Regions from separate parts of the Homo sapiens genome. Here all the other regions are linked to region 2. Evidence: fine-mapped expression QTL. A gene starts in region 2. Each other region holds a variant in brackets. All regions are shown on one strand. Distances are between the middles of the regions. Region 1 overlaps EYA3 (EYA transcriptional coactivator and phosphatase 3). Region 2 holds the start of XKR8 (XK related 8). Region 3 has its middle 14 kb from the start of IFI6.

Evidence for each region. PIP is the estimated chance that this variant, and not a neighbour inherited with it, causes the effect. A credible set is the group of variants that fine-mapping cannot tell apart.
Region 1: its variant is the best candidate, but not a certain one, in a credible set for the expression of XKR8 in tibial nerve (GTEx, PIP 0.83).
Region 3: its variant is the best candidate, but not a certain one, in a credible set for the expression of XKR8 in whole blood (TOPMed, PIP 0.89).

The regions. Positions count from the first base shown.
Region 1 is chr1:28,007,711-28,011,949 of GRCh38, reverse strand. EYA3 (EYA transcriptional coactivator and phosphatase 3) reads left to right here. Exons shown (of 18, transcript NM_001990.4): 10 at 864-1,003. Among named protein-coding and RNA genes, the nearest start is that of XKR8, 50 kb to the right of the region's middle. The variant T/C (reference allele first, on the strand shown) is at 1,595.
Region 2 is chr1:27,958,017-27,962,255 of GRCh38, reverse strand. XKR8 (XK related 8) reads right to left here and starts at 2,283. Exons shown (of 3, transcript NM_018053.4): 1 at 1,894-2,283. The coding sequence starts at 2,186. It overlaps SMPDL3B (sphingomyelin phosphodiesterase acid like 3B), which reads right to left. Exons shown (of 8, transcript NM_014474.4): 8 at 3,104-3,780. The coding sequence ends at 3,418. RefSeq lists an enhancer at 1,779-2,342 and a silencer at 2,023-2,412.
Region 3 is chr1:27,684,512-27,688,750 of GRCh38, reverse strand. It overlaps the pseudogene CHMP1AP1. Among named protein-coding and RNA genes, the nearest start is that of IFI6, 14 kb to the right of the region's middle. The variant T/C (reference allele first, on the strand shown) is at 2,135.

The DNA.
Region 1 (4,239 bases), 50 kb before region 2:
TTGTTTAAAGTAGGATCCAACCCATTCCACAGTGTATACATATTTCAAAACAACATAAAGCATATACAGTTTTTATCGCATTAGTAAATAGAAATAATAAATAAATAGAAAATTTGAGGAGGGAAAATTAGGATCCAAATATAAGGTCCATAAATTGTGATTGGTAATTATGGGTATTTTGTGTTTCATCTCTATTTTAACCTATAAATCCTCCCGTCTCTTTTTCTCCCCCTTGTAGTTTGTTTGTTGAAGAAACTGGAGTGTTGATCCCATACTGTTTCCCAGTCTGAATTTTGACAGTTATATCCTCATAAGGTGGTTTAACATGTCCTGCTGCCTTCTGTATTTTATAGTAAATTGGTGAATGAACAGTTGTTTTCAACTGTTGGCAATGTATGGAAACATTTTTGGTTGTTACACTAGGTGGGGCGGTGCTTCTGGCATCTAGTGGGTAGATGCTAAGGATACTGCTTAACCAAACATCCTATAATGCACAAGACATCCCCCCACAACAAATAATTATCTGATCCAAAATGTCAGTTGTGCCAGGTTGAGAAACTCTAATCTACAAGTTTGACCATGAAGATTCAGGTTCAGCTTTTTCTTGGCAAAACAACTTCATTGATATTTTCTTCTATCATGGGGTAAGCATATAAAGTCTGGTTATAACTTTTCTGATGTTAGCCAGTGCTGATGCTCAATGCCTAGATGTACACTTCATAATTGCTTACATAAGGTTTAGCTTTCCAACCTTTATCCCTGCATTATGACTCACAAGGGCAGAGAGTCCACTAACCCTCTTCCTGCCCTGATTCTTATAGCCTGTGACTCCTGACAACATATGTTTCACTTTTTCTTTCCAGGAGACCCTTCTACAAGTCCATCTTTGTCCCAGACTACACCAAGTAAAGATACTGATGATCAGTCCAGGAAAAACATGACTAGCAAGAACCGGGGCAAGAGGAAAGCTGATGCCACTTCTTCCCAAGACAGTGAATTAGAAGTATGAGAAGAAACTGATTTAGTTACCTACTTTGTTCTTTCTCACTTCTTAAGTTTATCAAACATGTTTTTGAAGCTCACAGAGATAATGTGCACTATGTTATGTGCCCTTTAATTCCTGAGCAAAATAAACTAAATTGGCCACGTTAAAAGAAAAATGTAAAAAGAACAAATTATTCTGTATATTCCAGAAGAGAACAGAAACAATTCATCATATTCAGAAAGCAGAGGGAGTTACAAGTAAAGTCATACTGTTCTCTATTTAAAATTTTAAAAGGGTCAGGTGCGGTGGCTTACATCTGTAATCCCAGCACTTTGGGAGGCTGAAGCGGGAGGATCGCTTGAGACCAGCCTAGGCAACATAGTGAGACCCCCATCTCTAAAAATATATATATACAAGAATTAGCTGCACACCTGTAGTCCCACCTACTTGGGAGGCTGAGATGGGAGGATCACTTGAGCCTGGCAGGTTGAGGCTGCAGTGAGCTATGATCGGGCCACTGCACTCCAGCCAGGGCAACAGAGTGAGACTCTGTCTCAAAAAGAAAAGAAATTTAAAAGGAAAGGACTAGAGTGCTTTTAGCCAAGTTTC[T/C]GTAAGGCGCAAACAGATCTGGTAACTTATTAATGAGACTGGTGCTGATTTATTCTGTAGTGTAAGTACTATATGAGTTTATTATGGACATACATTTGACTTCATCATTAAAGACATAAAGGTCATGCAGAGTGCTAAAATTAGTGGAGTTTTTGTATTATCTTTTTGTTTTCTGTTTTCCGTTTTTCTATAGTGCTATTATGTACTGAGGGGAAAATACATATTTAACTATGAATCCATTGATAAGTGCTCTTAAGACATAGGTGAACTGAGCCTGTATTTGAAGCCTTTTCTCTTTTTTCAGAGGTTTGGAGTGAAGAAGAAAGAAAGAAAAAGTAAATTTCTGATATATTTCTTAGGAAAAACTGATAACTCATTTTTTAATTGTCTAAAATATACATAAAATTTACCATTTTAGCCATTTTTAAGTGTACAATTTAGTGTCATTATACATTCTCAATATTGTCTAACCATCACCACTGTATATTTCTAGAACTTTTTCATGATTCCAAATGAAAACTCTGTACCCATTAAGCAGTAACTCCCCATTCTCCCCTTCTTCTAACCTCTGGTAACCTCTATTCTACTTTCTGTCTTTGACTTCTTATTCTAGATATCTCATATAAGTGGAATCACAGAAAATGTATCCTTTTGTGCCAGACTTATTTCATTTACCATAATGGTTTTTTGTTGTTGTTGTTGTTGTTGTTGTTGTTTTGAGATGGAGTCTCAGGCTGGAGTGCAGTGGCACGATCTCGGCTTACCGTGACCTCTGCCTCCCGGGTTCAAGTGATTCTCCTGCCTCAGCCTCCAGAGTAGCTGGGATTATAGGTGCACACCACCATGCCTGGCTAATTTTTGTATTTTTAGTAGAGACAGGGTTTCAACATGTTGGTCAGTCTGTTCTTAAACTCCTGACCTCGTGATCCGCCTGCCTCGGCCTCCCATAGTGCTGGGATTACAGACGTGAGCCACCATGCCCTGCCTACCATAATGTTTTTAAGGTTCATCCATGTTGTAGCACATACCAGAATTTCATTCCTTTTTATGTCTGAATATTTTATTATATGTATATACCACATTTTGTTTATCCATTCATCTGTTGATGGACACTTGGGGTTTGTCACCTTTGTGCTATTGTGAGTAATGCTGCTTTGACCATTGGTGTACAATTATCTATCTGAGTTCATCTTATCAATTCTTTTTGGTATATATGTAGGAGTGGAATTGCTGGATGCTATTGTAATTCTGTGCTCCACTTTTTGAGAAACCACCAAACTATTTTTCATTGTGGCTGCACGGTTTTATACTCTTACCAGCGATACATAAAGGTTCCAGTTTGTTCACATCCTCGCCAACACTTGTTATTTCCCATTTTTTTGATAATAGCTATTCTAATGGATGTGAAGTGGTATCTTATTGTGGCTTTGATTTGCATTTCCCTAGTGCAGTGGCACAATCTCGGCTCATTGCAACCTCTGCCTCCCAGGTTCAAGCAATTCTTGTGCCTCAGCCTCCTGAGTAGCTGGGATTACAGGCACATGCCACCACGCCTGGTTAATTTTTGTATTTTTAGTAGAGACGGGGTTTCACCATGTTGGCCAGGCTGGTCTTGAACTGCTGACCTCAGGTGATCCACCCACCTCAGCCTCCCAAAGTGCTGGGATTACAAGCATGAGAACCTTTGCCCACTTTTAAACTGGGTTGTTTGGTTTTTCATTGTTGAGTTGTAGGAGTTCTTTGTATATTCTATATTAATATTCTAGAATATTCTAGATTATTAATCCCTTATATTAATCAGATATATAATCTTCAAATATTTTCTCCCATTCTGTAGGTCGTCTTTTCACTCTCTCAATTTTTGTGCTTTGAAGCACAAAAATTTTTAATGTTTAGGAAGTCTGATTTCTATTATTGCTGTGCTTTTGGTCTAATACTTGTTGTTTCTTTTTGTTTTGTTTTGTTTTCTTGGTGTAATACTTAATACACGGTTATGAAGATTTTTATGTATTTTTTCTGAGATTTTCATCGTTTAGCTCTTAAATTTAGGCTGTTCTCCATTTTGAGTTAGTTTTGTATATGGTGTAAGATAATGGTCTAACTTTATTATTTTGCATATGGATATCCAGTTTTCCCAGCACTATTTGTTGAAAAGACGTTCCTTATTGAATGGTTTTGGCATCCTATTAAAAATTAACTTATGATGTTGGCTGTAGGTTAAATACTAAAAGAAGGTAAAAAACTAAACTAAAAAAAGAAAAAGAAAAATTGATCATATTTGTAAGGCTTTATTTTTAGACTCTCGGTTTATTTCATTCGTCTCTATGTCTATCCTTATGCTAGTACCACACTGTTTTGGTTACTGTAAGTTTTGAAATCAGGAAGTGTGAATCCTTCAACTTTGTTCTATTTCAAGACAGTTTTGGCTATTTGGGGTTCCTTGAGATTCATAAGAATTTTAGAATGCAATTTTCTATTTTTTTAAAAAACTACTATTGGATTTTGATAGGGATTGCGTTGAATTTGTAGGTTGGTTTGGGTAGTATTGTCTTCTTTACAATATTAAGTCTTCTAATCCATGAACATGGATGTCTTTCCGTTTATTTAGCTATGCCTACTTGGTTAAATTTATTCCTAAGTATTTT
Region 2 (4,239 bases):
ATAAGCAGCTAATAAGTACTGGAATGAGGATTTGGATCCAAACCTGAATTGGAAAGGCATGCTATAAAGTTGCCTGAGGCAGTAGTTCTCAAACTTTAGTGTGCCCAAGATCTCCTGGGGTCCTGTGGGCAAGAGGACATTTGCCTCTTGGGCACTTCTGGGCACAGGCCAGATGGAATCAGACTCTGCCTTGCCCCGGCCACACAGGGGAGGGGCTGGAGGAGGGTTAGATTGGAAGGAGGGATCCCATTTAAGAGGCTGGCCCTGAGTGGTTAAGGATGGAGATTGGGGCGGAGTTAAGAGAGTCCAGAGTTTGGACAGACAGGTCTGGGGTACCCACTGGCATGAAGAGTAAGTGGAGGATGCACCAAGGACCCTCCACCCAGAACTTTGCTCTCAGTTGCCTATTGGGAGAGAACCCCGTTCACTCATCACAAGCTCATTCACCAGACATGTACTGTCACTTCCCCTGGAAGGACACAAGAACACACTGAGGAGCAGGCAGGCAGGACAGGCTGGGGTTCTCCCTCAGCAGGAGCCTTTGCCTATGGTCCCCAGTGACCTAGCAGGGACCCCTGCCTCGGCCAATTCACAGGCAGGAACAGAGACCCATTTCCAAAGCCAAAGCTAGTACAGTCTGTCTGACTCAAGCTCAGCAGAAATATTGGCCACAAAGATGCATAAGGTAGTTACAGATTCACGGCTCATGGAGGCCTGCCCAGGACTTAACAACTGCACCCCTTCATGCCCACCCGGGGTTTTCTGATGTCTCTATAATCCCTCAGGCAAAACTGCCACATTCAAAGCTCCTCTCTTCCACTCCTGGAGACTCCGTGTGGCTTTGTCAAGGCCAGATCTCAAGAGTTTGTAAAAACGGATTCAAGAGCAGATCCTGGCCCTGGCCACCCCATCCCAACCCACACCACCCTCTGCCCTGACTTTGTCGCATGCCTCTGAGCCTTGGGTTTGTTTTCCCATCTCTACGAGGCTCCACCAGGTCCAAAAAGGAGCAGAATCCACACACATTTTCCAGGACCCAGCCTATGCCCAGCCCTGGCTGGCTCCATGGGCATGGATGAGTCAGAGGCCATCTCTGCCCTCTTGCTGGGTCTGGGGTGGGAAGCCAAGTTTCAGGGGGAAGAATACAACCAGGCAGACAGGGTGAGAGGCGGCCTTTGTGAGGGGCAAGCGCTGTGGTGGGGTCAGGGCTGCTGAAACTCCCAGGGAGGCCCAGGTCAAGAAGCCAGCTGAGGTTGCTGAGTGCTCACTCTGAGCCAGGGCAGTGGACAGATGTCATTTCACTGCATCTTCACCAAACGGGCAGGCGCTATCCCCATCCCAATGGGAACAGCAACCAAACAGCCCCACTGAGAGGTCAGTGACTTCCCAAGGCCCTGCCCATGCTGAAACATGGGATGCTGAACTGAGTCCGCAGCCCCTGCCATTACAGGCCAGGCACTGTGCGAGGCACTTTCTCATTCTTTCGCTCACTCTTCACAACAGGCCTGCCCGTCACACCTGTCTCAGGGTGACTACCTCCTTTCTACGCAGGAGGAAACTGAGGCTCAGAGAAATGCAGAAGTGAGGCGAGAGGGGGCAAAGCCAGAAGTGGATCCCTGAGAGGTCCGACTTCAAAGCCCATGCGCCTCCCTTTCTTCCCTGGGCCTCAGTTTCTTCGCCTGTGCCAGGAAAGCTAGGGCTAGAATGAAGGCAGTCTACCGGGATTCCCTTTCCGTAAAGGGCTGCACGCTCACCTGTAGGCCAGGCGCCCACAGGACTTGGTTCCCTCTCCCAGTCCCCTTCCCGGCATATGGCGTGTCACCTGTACAGGTGACCCAGCTGACGGAGGTGCTGGGCTCCGACACTCCTCCCCTCCCGGGGCGAAGCACTCACCTGTACAGGTAACCCAGCTGCAGGAGATGCAGCAGCGCCAGGCAGCGGCGCGGGGGCTGCGACCCGTGCAGGCCGGCAGGGTCAGCGCGCAGCCAGAGCCAGCTGAAGAGCTGCAGCGCCACGGAGGCCAGGCCCAGCAGCGCCAGCACCAGCGCCGCCCACAGGTAGCGGCCGCCGAGCGCATACTGGACGGCGGCCCACAGGTCGGTGCCCAGGTCGAGCAGGAAGGCGGCGGTGCCCAGCACGCCCAGGACCAGGTCCCGAAGGAGGGCGCCGCGGGACGACCAGGGCATGGCCCGCCGGCCTCCGCCCTCTCCTGCTCCTCCGCGGTTGGGGCCTGCCCTCAGGGCCCGGGGTTGCCGAGGCAGGAAGGAGGTGGGCGCAGCCCTCGGGGCGGCCCGGGGCCTGGGCCTGGTGGGCGGGACTTCCCCGTCCCGCCCCGTCCGGGGAGGAGCGAGGCCCGCGGTTGTCCCAGGTCCTCCGCCCGAACCCCAGCTAAAAGCCGCTCGATGCTCTGCTCCCGCCGCCAGCCCAGGGGTCCACCGACCCAGCCCAGCCAAGCCCGCTAGGCCTGAAGACCGACTGCCCTTCGCTTCGCAGGCTTCAAATGGCCTAGTTTTACCTTTGAGGCGCCCGGAGGCCCAAGAAAGCGAGAGGGCGGGGAGACTAGAGCCTGGACCAGGGCTGCGATCCCTCACACCTGTATTGTTGCAAAACAAAACGAAACGCAAAGGCACATTCTAATCCCTAAGTGCGAGACTTTGCAACAACGCGTGCGCCTCGATCCAGGGATACCCGGAGAGCACGGGGCCGCTGGGTTCACGCCAGCGATCCGAGTCGGGGGAGGGCGGGCGTTAGGTTCCTGCAAATGAGTTAACCTCATTTCCATACGGAAGGGAATAGAGGCCGGGCGCGGTGACTCACGCCTGTAATCCCAACACTTTGGGAGGCCCAGGCGGGCGGATCACCTGAGGTCAGGAGTTCGAGACCAGCCTGGCAAACATGGCGAAACCCCGTCTCTACTAAAAATACAAATTAGTCGGGCGTGTTGGCGCGCGCCTGTAGTCCCAGCTAGGAGGCTGAGGCAGGAGAATCGCTTGAACCCGGGAGGCAGAGGTTGCAGAGAGCCGAGATAGCGCCACTGCACTCCGGCCTGGGCGACAGAGCGAGACTCCGTCTCAAAAGAAAAGAAAAGGAACACAACACAGAATCAAACGCATGATGAGCTTTGTTTTGTGAGTTAAACATAATACGCAAAAGAAGTATGCTTGTAGGGGGGTCTTGGGTCGTCATTTCTTTTCTGTTTCTGGTTTGTTTTTGGAGAGAGTCTGGCTTTGTCACCCAGGCTGGAGTGCAGTGGCGCGATCACGGATGGCTGCAGCTCCTGGGGCTTCGCTTCCTGATTCGGTTGTCCTATTTCAGTTCACTCCTCAGGCGCGGAGGAAATGGTGGAAGGCCCAGCTCTGGGTGATCCTGGGCGCTGCCCCCGTTACCCGTTACCAGGAAGAAGGTGAGCCTGGCAGGTCACAGCACGAGCGTGCACAGGCCCAGCAGGGCCATCAGCAGCAGCGGGAGCTGGGGCACGGGCGTGGTGCCAGAGGCATACAGACAGGTGGTGTAAGCGTCAATGTCCACCTGGCGCATGGCACACACGTGCTGCATGCTGCAGGCCTCGTCGCAGACCCCAGCAGAGTAGCTGACTGAGTTATAGACGTAGTAGCGCTGCAGTGTGCTCTGGTCGCCAGCGATGCGGTCCAGCACTGTGTGCATGGAGTGGGCGCTGGCGTCCGGCACCCCATAGGCCTCGGTCAGCTGGTACTCGAGCTCCCAGCGCGGCGTCCCCTGAGCATTCGCCTGGCTCAGGTTCATGAAGTAGGTCACCATGTCCTGGAAAAAGGGTTTGGGGTAGACCGGCTGTGAGCAGTTGTCTGCTTCCATCCCCATCCTGCACCTTGCATTTGCCCCCAAGTTCTTTAGAGCAGTGACCATGACCACTAGTAGTTATTGAGCACTTAGCTGTGCACCCATTGTGCTTGGCAGACATCCTCTGAATCGAATGAGGTAACTGCGCTTATTACCTAGGTTTCACAAATGAGGAAACTGAGGCCTAAAGAGGTTAATTCACTTGGCCAGGGTCATACAGGTATTCATACAGGTATTCAGTGGTAGCAGGATTGGACCCCAGGTTTACCCCAGGTCCCACCATGCTAGGGTACACATAGAAGACGCTCAGTAAATATTTACATAATGAATAGATAAAAGCAACATAAAAAGAGCAACACTAAGCATGAGAGAGATTATGAACTGTAGACTCCTAGGACCCAGGTGCATGTTCACGGCTAGACT
Region 3 (4,239 bases), 270 kb after region 2:
AAGCCCAGCAAATTTTAAAAGTTTTTGTACAGATAGGGTCTCACTGTGTTGCCCAGGCTGGTCTTGAACTCCTAGCCTCAAGCAGTCCTCCTGCTTTGACTTCCCAAAGTGTCAAAATTACAGGTGTGAGCCACTATGCCCAGCCCGTTTATAAATTAATCTCTATTCCTCCGCCCCCACCCATTCATTCTCCCTAGTAATCATTTATTGTCCCTCAACAGAATTACCTATATTCCCTATCTCCCCCATCCCCTCTGAAATAAAGCTATAGAAGTATTTGGGCCTCATTGGGATGTTGGGTAAGCACTCTGTGATTTTTCCCTCATGTACACATTAATAAATTTGTATGACATTTCTCTATTAATCTGCATTTTGTGGGTTGAATGTACAGTGATCCTTGAGAGGGCAAAGGAGAAGTTTTTCCCTTGGCCCCTACATTCCCTATAAATGTCAAATGGAACACCCCAGATGAAGCAGTTGATAGGTTTCATATGCAAGCCATGTGGAGCTGGCTTTACAATGACCAGGCATTCACCCGCTAAGGATGCCTGTATATGGCAGATGCAGCTGACAGCCATAACTTAACTGAAGCGTACCCTGAGAATGATCCTAGGGTCTAAGAAGAATGTGTGTTCGGAGTCCTGAGCTAAGGAATCCGGGAGTGGCCAACCCAGAGTTTCACTCCTTATCTATGAAGGACATCTGAGCCCCTGGCTCATTCCTTGGAACACAGGCCATACAGGGGATGGAGTCCCTTTTTGTGGATTAACTGGAGGTTGCTGGGTAGAGGTTGCTAGGTGGAAGGTGCTAAGTGAAAATGCTGTATCAACTGCATGCGTTTCATAAAACGCATGCCCTGTTTCATAAATGCATGCTCCTGTCCAGCCCACCACCACTGGACCATCCCTGTGTGTAAGTTCCCCTCAGTAAACCCTAAGTCTCATTCACTGGTTCCGGCCTCTAGGACACAGTGCCATCCCTATTGGAGTCAACAGGAGTCCTGCATGACAATGCCTATTACCCGGGTCATGATAAATGCTGTGGTTCAGGCAGCCTCTTTTGCATGGGCACCTCATGTAACCTTACTACTGCAAAACTGAGCTATAGTCAGAGAAGCCTTATCAAATTTGCTACCTCAGCTTCCCCTCCTGGGTCTTACGGATGGTAATGAAAACATTAAGGCAACTAACAAGAGAATAGGTAATGGGAGAGGGGAGAATCAAAGGATTTCTCCCACGAAGGCAAACATTTTTAAATGGTTATTAAGAAATAAGGCAAGAGCCACTGGCACCTGATGCCTCCCGGAGTTCATGTCCCTTCTGCCTTTCCAAGGGGTGCTTCTGTCAGACTGGCCAGGGGACAATACCCTGTTCCAGTTGAAATTTATGGTGAAGCAGCTGGAGAAACCAGACAAGAAGGCAGAAAAGCACTCCTACGCCAACCAGGCCAAAGTGAAGAAGTCCCTTCAGCAGAAAAATGTAGAGTGCACCCGTGTGTACACCAAGAACACCATCTGCAAGGAGAACAGCAGCGTGAACTGGCTCTACATGGCATCCGCCTGGACACAGTGGCCCCCGAGGTGCAGACAGCTGTGACCATGAAGGTGGTAACCAAGAACATGGTGTAGGTGACCAAAGCCCCAGACAAGGCCTGAACACCACGGACCTGCAGAAGGCCTCTGCAGCGATGGACAGGTTTGAGTAGCAAGTGCAAAACCTGGCCATGCACACATTAGTGATGGAGGATTCCATGAGCTCGGCCGCCACACTGACCATGCCTCAGGAGCAGGTGGACAGACCCATTGTGCAGAGCGCCAAGGAGAATGGCCTGGAGGTCCTAGACCAGCTCAGCCAGTTGCCCAAGGGTGCCTCTGCCGGGCGAGAGCTCCGTGTGAAGCCAGGAGGAACAGCTGTCAAGGGCGTTAGCCGCCCTGAGGAATTAGCCGCACCCTGCCGTGGGCACCGCCTCTGCTCTGTGATGTGCCGCAAGGCTCCTGGCCTCCTCCCCTCCCCCCGGCATCTTGCCTTTTTGTTGATCCTGCAGAGCTGCAGCTGGCAGCTACTGTCGCCCAGCTCCTCTCACCTGCCTGGCCTAGGTGGCCCTGGAGTTGTTCCTGTTTTCTTAGGTTGGGCGG[T/C]GGATCTGTGTCCTGGTGTTGAGTAGGGGTGACTTCTGTGACTCTGGGGCCAACAGCTGGGAGGTCAGCAGGCTCTCTTTTGCTCTCTGTGGAGTCGATGGGGTCTGGCCAGTGGGTGCCATGTAAACTTTTGCTCAACACTGCGGGGACCTTCAGACTCCGTGATAGGAGACATGCTGCTCACTGTCAGCCAGTGGGGGTCAGGGCTGCCCTGTTTTCCAGGCAGCTCCTGGAGAAGGCCTCTCCACGCACCCTGCCCCTACCACCAATGGGCAGGAGGTCCCACCATGTGAACGGACACAGCCTGAAGAGGCACCAGTGGCTCGTGTGTGCTGGGGAACGTCAGGTGCCACCCAACACTGTCTTGGTGGCATTTACAGATGATGACCCTCCCCCTCTTCCTCCTCTGTCATTCTAGGGGTGGGGTCTGGGCTGCTCCTGACAGCTGGCTGAGCCTCCCTGGGCCTCCTGCCCTCAGCTCCCCTGGTTCTTAAAGCTGCCCAGTCCATGGGGACAGAAACTTGCCCAGCTCCAAATCCAGGAGTTTCCACCCTGGGGTCCTCATCCTTGCTCATCTGCCACCTCTGGAGGTGCCTTGGGCTACATGGGCTGTGCTGTTGTGTCCCCTCAGCAGGGGGTCTGTCCATGCACTGGCCAGAATTGAGCATGTGCGTGGGGCCTCCTCGGTGATGCTGCCTGTGTGCCAATCTCTTCTGTCTCTCTAAATAACTGGGTGCCTCCCCCGACTGCACCCCATCCTACCTTCCCAGCGTGGAAGCCAGAGTGGCTGGTGAAGGGAGCTTAGGAGAGTCACCTTCAGCTGGGCCAGTGGCTCTGTGAGGAAAACCTGTGCTGTGGCCACGCGGGCACCACCAGCTGCAGCTCATCAGGAGGACTCGGAGAGGGGGACGGCAGAGAGAGGGCTTTGGGCACAGCCTGCTGTTTTGTTTTTTCTGTTCCCTAAAGTTTACTTCATTTTCTTGAAGCTTCCAGGGTTTTGTTGTTGTTTGCCAAAGTAGAAAGGACAGGTGGCAGGCGGGGAGGGTGAGTCCCAGCCCCTCCTCTGCACCAGGGCTGCCGCGGTGTCATGGCTCTTATGAAGGGAAGCATAAGACCCTCACTCAGTGCGTTTGGTTTTCTTTTCAGGATTTCAGAGCCCCTGGGAGGAGATCCCATTGGTGGGTCTGGACATGCGGAGGTCAAGGCACCATCTGGCCATGGTCCTCTCCAGCCTCCCCAGAAATTGACCCACATGCTGGGTGTTGAAACAAGGTCCCTCTATCCCTTGCAAATAACAGCTTTGGAATTAACAGCTTTGGGGAGCTACCTTGTCCTCCCAAGGGTGCAGGGCTCCACAGAGCCAAGGGCCAGGCAGGGGCTACCTCAGCCCTGTCTCCTTGGGCACCAAAGCAGGGATTTGTTGAAGGAGAGAGCCATGTTTGCCCTTTTCCTAAAATGCTGCTGTAAATAAACAGGTCCCCCAGCAAGCAAGGAAGCAAAGGAAGGAAGGAAGGAAGGAAGGAAGGAGAAGGAAAGAAGAAAGGAGAGAGAGGGAGGGAGAGAAAGAAGAGAACACTGATAAGGGTGAAACTAAGAGGAAAAAGAAAGGGGAGAGTCATGAGACTCGTCTGAGCAGGATGGAAATCCTTAGATGGTTATTAAGAAATAGGATGAGTAAAATAAAAATTAATGAGGTTTTAAAAAAGGAAATTAATGCAGTGAAAACAAATGTCTTTTTTTTTTTTTTTTTTTTTTTTTTGAGACAGAGTCTCGCTCTGTCACCCAGGCTGGAGTGCAGTGGCATGATCTCAGCTCACTGTAACCTCTGCCTCCTGGGTTCAAGCAATTCTCCTGCCTCAGCTTCCCAAGTAACTGGGATTACAGGGACCTGCCACCACGCCTGGCTAATTTTTGTATTTTTAGTAGAGATGGGGTTTTGGCATGTTGGCCAGGGTAGTCTTGAACTCCTGACTTCAGGTGATCTGCCAGCCTCGGCCTCCCAAAGTGCTGGGATTACAGTCATGAGCCACTGCGCGTGGCCAAAATAAATGTCTTAATACAACACTATTGAAGGTTGGGTGGACCAAAGAGAGTCTCTGATGGTC